Linked DNA regions of Homo sapiens. The protein of the gene in region 2 purifies or fractionates together with the protein of the main gene of each other region. This does not show direct contact. Each region holds a gene or a part of one and is shown on either strand. Other genes may lie near its edges.

Region 1 (3,500 bases), on a different chromosome or scaffold from region 2:
GTGATTCTCCTACCTCAGCCTCCTGAGTAGCTGGGATTACAGGTACTCGCCACCACACCCGGCTAATTTTGGTATTTTTAGTAGAGACGGGGTTTCACCATGTTGGCCAGGCTGGTCTCGAACTCCTGACCTCAGGTGATCCGCCTGCCTTGGCCTCCCAAGTGCTGGGATTACAGGCGTGCACCACTGCGCCCAGCCCAAAAAGCCCAGTTTTTAGACCAACACTCCCATTTCTGACTCAAAGGTCTGGGGTAGACATGACAGTTTGCATTCGTAACAGTTCCTAATGCTACTCATCTGGGGGCCACACTGAGAACTACCCACTGTTCTAGACAAGCAATTGTGCTCACTGTGTAACTTGACAGACTATTTAAAGGAAGGTTAAGATACAGGCTGAGGGCAATGGCTCATGCCTGTAACCGCAGCATTTTGGGCAGCTGACATAGAATGCTTGAACTCAGGAGTTTGACACCAGCCTGGGCAACATGGCAAAACCCCATCTCTACAAAAAAAATTAGCCAGGTGGCTGAAGTGGGAGGATCACCTGAGCCCAGGAGGTCAAGGCTGCAGTGAGCCAAGATTGTGCCACTGCACTCTAGCCTGGGCAATACAGTGAGACCCTGTCTCAAAAAAAAAAAAAAGCTTTCTTCCACTTCAAAGTAGTTTATCTGGCCAGGCACAGTGGCCCACATCTGTAATCCCAGGCCGAGGCAGGCAGATCGCCTGAGGTCAGGAGTTCGAGACCATCCTGGCCAACATAGTGAAGCCCTGTCTCTACTAAAAATACAAAAAATTAGCTGGGTGTGGTAGTGAGCACCTGTAATCCCAGCTACTCAGGAGGCTAAGGCAGGAGAATCGCTTGAATCTGGGAGACAGAGGTTGCAGTGAGCCGAGATCGTGCCATTGCACTCCAGCCTGGGCGACAAGAGCAAAACTCCATCTCAAAAAAGTTTACCTGAATTCATACACAGCTAATGAAAGGGATACTTACCAAGAACCGCTTTATCCAGATTAATATAAGTGAAAGCCTTTAAATGCAGGGACGAAAGGTATCCCTAGAAGAGAAGGGAAAACACTAATAAGTATAAATCTGTTTATTTATCACATACAGTAGCATTAGGGATTCATTTTCAATTCTGGACTCTACTGAGACTAAACGCAAAGGCAAAAGTGGTAAAATCAAACCTATAAAAACATCACTTCTGGACAACAGCCTAAGCCCACAAGCTCGTGTCCAATATGGGAAGGGATGATAAAGAATACCTCTAGCCATTCAGTGGCACCAACCGATCCAAAGTCTCCAGCACTCCAACTGGCAAAGATAATGCTTCTGCTGGGCTGAAACCCATCTGAAAGAGAAAAAAGTTAGCTTTACCTGAGGAAAGGTTATACACAGACAAGGATGGAAGGTATCCCACTTAAGATGAATCAGAAGGTCTAATTCCAAGATAGCAGATTCCAAAATCTTTTTTTTCTGAGCCAAAAAAGAAAAAAAAAACTAACAAAATCTTTTTTTGAGACCCCAGGTAAAAGAATAAAAGAATAGGAATAATTTTTTTTAAAGTAACCTACAAAGAGCAAGATAGGAGATCTGCAAATAAGATTTTGAGTACATAGCAGGGGCCAGTAGTCACCCTTTCACAATTTCATTCTTGGAGTTCCTTAACTTCTGGACCCAGAGATCATTGAAAACAGTGTAAGCATGATGATGCACATCTTGAGAAAAATCTTCAGAGGTAAATCCAAACATTGGATTTTTAAAAAAATAATTCTAAAATAAAATAAAAATTCACAAATTTAAGTTACAAGAAGAGTTTGCAGAGAAACTATATTTGTGACAGCACCTTTTGAGGTTACATGTATCACACTGCCCTCCATCCCTCCCACTTCCCTCACTGTATCTTTTTCTCCATTAATGTACTCTGTATTAAAGTTAAGCATTGCAGTTTGCCCTAAGACCCAAAGATTCAAGAATGTGACGTGATTTTGAATGTGTGGGTGGGTAGGAGTGTGAAAGAGTGGAAAGTAGGACAGAAAGGCTCAAAAATAAACAAAAGAGGCAGGGCACGGTGGCTCACTAGCAGCATTTTGGGAGGCTGAGGCGGGTGAATCACTTGAGGTCAGGAGACTAGCCTGGCCAACATGGCGAAACCCTGTCTCTAGTAAAAATACAAAAATTGGCCGGGTGTGGTTGTGGGTGCCTGTAATCCCAGCTACTCAGGAGGCTGAGGCAGGAGAATTGCTTGAAGTCGGGAGGCAGAGGTTGCAGTGAGCTAAGTGAGATCACACCACTGCACTCCAGCCTGGGCAACAGAGTGAAACTCTGTCTCAAAAAATGAATAAATGAATAAACAGAACAAAATTTCAATAGCTGTTAGGCCTCAGTACATGAGTAGAGAGGTATGCTACTGCTTTCAAATAGATTGCTTAGGGACTATGATCCACCTTATCACTCTGGATCCACCACACTAAGCACTAGGGCTCAGTAACTCCACTGTCTCAAAGAAACTGGTGATTTCTAGCACAGTTAAGACACTTTATGGAAAGCTGTTTCAAAGGAAAAGGCAGCTACAACAAAAGACAATCTGCCTTGTATTTAAGAACTAGAGTCTAGCATGAGAACCACAGGAATGCAGGCAAAGTGAGCAAAGCACAGTATAACATCTAGAACTGTATGCAGTGCACCAATATTCAAAAGAATCAAAATTTGTACTCTACCTTTTAAGACCATATCTGAGAACATCTGGGCAAGTTTCAATAGGAGAGCTGTGCCTACACCGGATTTTGCAGCTCCAGGGCCCCATGCATCTCTCTGGGCCCCAACTACAACATAGTGATCTTTAAAAAAGAAAAAAGAGGAAGAAAGAACTTATATAATCAGCTTCTAAACTTTTCTAGAATTAGCACATCAGTAGAAAGGTAAAAGCACAGTATATGTATTAAGGATAAAAGAGCCTTACTTCAAATCTGACTAAAAACTCTGGGAATTAAAAATTCACATGAGAATATTAATTTTACCTTACTAGTAGAGCTACTTTTTTCCTACACTACTAATTAAATTTACTGACTACTTAAGTCCAAGGACTTATTTCTTAGTAAGTGTTGGCTGTTTGATTGCATTTAAAGTTAACTCCAGGGACTGGCAAACTACAGCCCGCATGCCCATTCACTACGCACAGTCTGTGCCTGTTTTCTTGCTCCCACAGAGTTGAACAGCTAAAAGAGAGACTGTATAGCCTGGCAAAAGGTTTATTATCTGCCCCCTTAAGAAATTTGCTTATCACTGGTCTAGTCAATAACTTAGAATAGATTTTCTAGTCATAATGGTCAATTTTTAACAAGAATTTCCTAGGGCCTTATTACCTCCCAATAAAACTGACACATAGGCTGGGCGCGGTGGCTCATGCCTGTAATCCCAGCACTTTGGGAGGCTGAGGGAGGCAGATCACCTGAGGTCAGGAGCTCTGACCTCATGGAGCCTGACCAACATGGAGAAACCC
Region 2 (3,500 bases):
GTATTTGTTTTTTATTCATCAATTGCTACTTTCAATTGTTTTGGAAGTGACACACTTTTATTTCCATTCTTTTGGTGATTACTCTTTTAACTAACCATCTAGAACATAGTACAAACATTTTATGTAACATAACATTAATATTTAACCCTCCTTTTGGACAATTTAAGAACTTCAGAATATTTTAACTCCAGCTATCCCCTTTAATTTACATGCTGCATGCTGTGGTTACTCCATATTTCAGTTAGGCCTTTAAAAATTAACCCACAATGGAAACTTCTTGGTCAAATTTTAACTAGCTAGTATTATATTTATATACAGGGTCTTTTTTCTTTACTGATGTATTTTTCTACTCATAGCCAACCAATAAATTCAATATCTGTTTCAAAAAAAATTAACCCACAAAATAAATATTATTGTTATTTTAATAATATGTAGACACGCCTGTAATCCCAGCACTTTGGGAGGCCGAGGCGGGGGGATCACTTGAGGTCGGGAGTTTGAGACCGGCCTGGCCAACACAGTGAAACCCCATCTCTACTAAAAATTCAAAAATTAGCCGGATATGGTGGCATGTGCATGTAATCCCAGCTACTCGGGAGGCTGAGGCAGAAGAATCACTTGAACCTGGGAGGTGGAGATAGCAGTGAGCCAAGATCCTGCCACTGCACTCCAGTCTGGGTGACAGGGCAAGACTCAGTCTCAAAATAAGAAGAAGAAGAAGAAGAAGAAGAAGAAGAAGTAGACAGAGTGTGTTTAGACTTACCTACATTTTCACAATTGCCTCACTATTGCTACTTGCTTCTTGGTTCTTCCTTTTAGGATCATTTTCCTTCTTCCTAAAGTAAATGCTTTATATATTCTTTTAGAGAAGGTTTGTTGATGGTAAAGTCTGTTTTTGTTTTCTTGAAAATGCCTTTATTCTTGAAAGATAGTTTTGTAGGGTTCACAATCCCTGATTGATTGTTATCTTTTGGCATGCTGGAGATATACTTCCACTGACTTCTAGCTCCTTTATTGCTGTGGGAAAGCCTGTTGTCAGTCTAATTGTGGTAGATTTGTGGTACTGTGGGTGGTCTGGGTTTTCTCTCTGCTGCTATAAGGAGTTTCTTTTTGTCTTTGGTGTTCTGCAGTTTCATTATAATGTACATAGGTGTGGATTTATTCTAATTTTTCCACCTTGGTTGTATGCGTGTACACTATGGTGGTGTATGTTCTGTGGATTCACACCTTTTATCAATTCTGGAACATTCTCAGCTCTTATCTCTTTGGTACTGTCTCTCTCTCATTGTCTTGATTCTCTCTTTCTGGGATTCTGGATATGTTAGAATTTACCATTCTAGGCTTCATTGCTCCTGGCCTTGTTTTCATATTTTTAATCTCCTTATCTCTCTCTGCTGTTAAGCCTAGTCACTTCTTCAATTTATCTTCCAGTTCATTTGTTCTCTCTTAATTGGTGTTTTAATTGTTATTTACCCCATCCACTTAGTTTTTTATTTTTATAATTATAGTTTTTATTTCTAAAAGCTGTATTCAGTTCTTTTTCAAATCTGCCTGTTATTTTTGCTTGATTATTAAGATATCCATTTTTAACAGAAAATAGCAAGTGTTAGGGGGGATATGGAGAAATAGTAACTCCTGCAAACTGTTGATGGGAATGTAAAATGGTGCAGTCTCTATGGAAAGCAATATATCAGTTCCTCAAAAAATTCAAAATAGAATTACCATATGATCCAGCAATTCCACTTCTGGGAATATACCCAAGAGAATTGAAAGCAGGGCCTCAAAGAGATACTTGTACACCCATGTTCACAGCAGCATAATTCACAATAGCCAAAAGATAGAAGTAACCTGAATGTTCGTATAAACAATAGAATATTATTTAGTCTAAAAAGGGAAGAAATTCTGACACATGCTACAACATGGGTGAAACTTGAAGACACAATGTGAAGTGAAATAAAACAAGTACAAAAAGACCAATACTGCATGACTTCACTTAAATGAGGTACCCAGAGTAATCCAGTTCACAGAGACTGAAAGCACAATGGTGGTTGCCAGAGATTGGGAGGAGGGGGAAATGGAGAGTTGTTTGATGGGTACTGAGTTTCTGTTCTGGAGATGGATGGTGGTGATGACTGCACAATAGTGTGAATGTACATAACACCACTGAACTATACACCTAAAAATGGTGAAGATGGCAACTTGTGTTATGTGCATTTGACCACAGTTAAACATGATTTTAAAATGTGGAACTAGTATTCATTTTTTATTCAAATATTTTATAAATTATCATATTGGAGGCCCTATAGTGTGGTAGTTTACAGCATGAACTCTGTATTCCAAGTGCTCACGTTCAACTTACAGTCTATAATCTCAGGCAAGGAGCTTAACCACTTTGTGCCTTAGTTTTTTTAATCCATAGAGTGAGGATAAGAATAATACCCATCTCACAGATTTCTGTGAGTATTAAATGAATCAGTACATGATGAAGCACTTACAATAGTGTCTGGCACATACAAATACTCTGCAAATATTGCTTATTATCATAAGTCTCTAATATTCTGACATCTGAAGCCTTTGGGGTTCTAAATTAGCTGTTTTTTATGCTGCCCACTTAAGGTGTTTTTTATTTTTCAACGTCTCTGATCTTTGATTGTGAGCTCATATTTGGAGGATCTTTGGGAATCCTGAGGCTCTAAATTTGGGAAATTTTCCTCCAGACCATCTGCAATTTGAGACCACATTTACTGCCATCAGTTATCCCTGCTTCATGTAGGAGCCCTGGTTCAGCTCCCTTGTCTTCAGTGTGTCCAGGTTTAGCTCCACTGCCAGCCTTCATATAGGTCTCGACCCAAGATTTTAGTGTATTGCTCCCAGATCATCACCTTAGTTTCCACTCACAGTTCTGATGGTTTTGTTTTATTTTGTTTTGTTTTCTGGGTTTCTATTTTCTTTGTTTTTGGCATTTGAGGAATTCTGTTGTTTCCTAAGAACCTAGTACAGTATGAACAAGTATATTTCATCTAGGATCTGACTTAACTATAGCAAGACAGTCCTCAGAAAACCCAAGCTTTCATACAGATGCCAAAAAAGTCCATGGGGTTTAATTCTTTGACCATTTTGAGTGCAGGGACTTATTCATGCTTACATCCTCACAACTCAGCTTGGGGACTGCCTCACACCTGGCAGCTGATCCTTTTTGTTTTTTAAATGTAAGAAGCCACACTGAGGGCTCTCCAGGCGGAAAAAGTTAGGACACAGGACCAGCATTTCTTTCCAGCCACTTGTGGATCCCTGATTGAATGTCACCCTTGACTGCCTAACTCATCTCTTTCCCAAGTCATAGGTTATCCCTGGCTCCTGGCTGATTATCACAGGCAGGGAGGGAGGGAAAGAGGCAAAGGGAGAAGGCCCTGTGTGGGACTCAAACTTGCTCACCCTGGTTTCTGTAATCTGCAGCTCACTCTTGCTGCCACTCAGCAGATCTGGTCTCCCTAACTCTT

Evidence for each region.
Region 1: the proteins of TMPRSS4 (region 2) and TFRC purify together in Homo sapiens (affinity purification with mass spectrometry, with the first as the bait; one large-scale study listed by BioGRID). This does not show direct contact.

The regions. Positions count from the first base shown.
Region 1 is NC_000003.12:196,061,591-196,065,090, forward strand, and holds part of TFRC (transferrin receptor protein 1), read right to left. Parts: intron 2,839-3,500; coding exon 2,719-2,838; intron 1,350-2,718; coding exon 1,264-1,349; intron 1,056-1,263; coding exon 992-1,055; intron 1-991. UniProt on the Homo sapiens protein: Cellular uptake of iron occurs via receptor-mediated endocytosis of ligand-occupied transferrin receptor into specialized endosomes. Endosomal acidification leads to iron release.
Region 2 is NC_000011.10:118,118,578-118,122,077, reverse strand, and holds the end of TMPRSS4 (transmembrane protease serine 4), read right to left. Parts: 3' UTR 188-3,500; downstream 1-187. UniProt on the Homo sapiens protein: Plasma membrane-anchored serine protease that directly induces processing of pro-uPA/PLAU into the active form through proteolytic activity.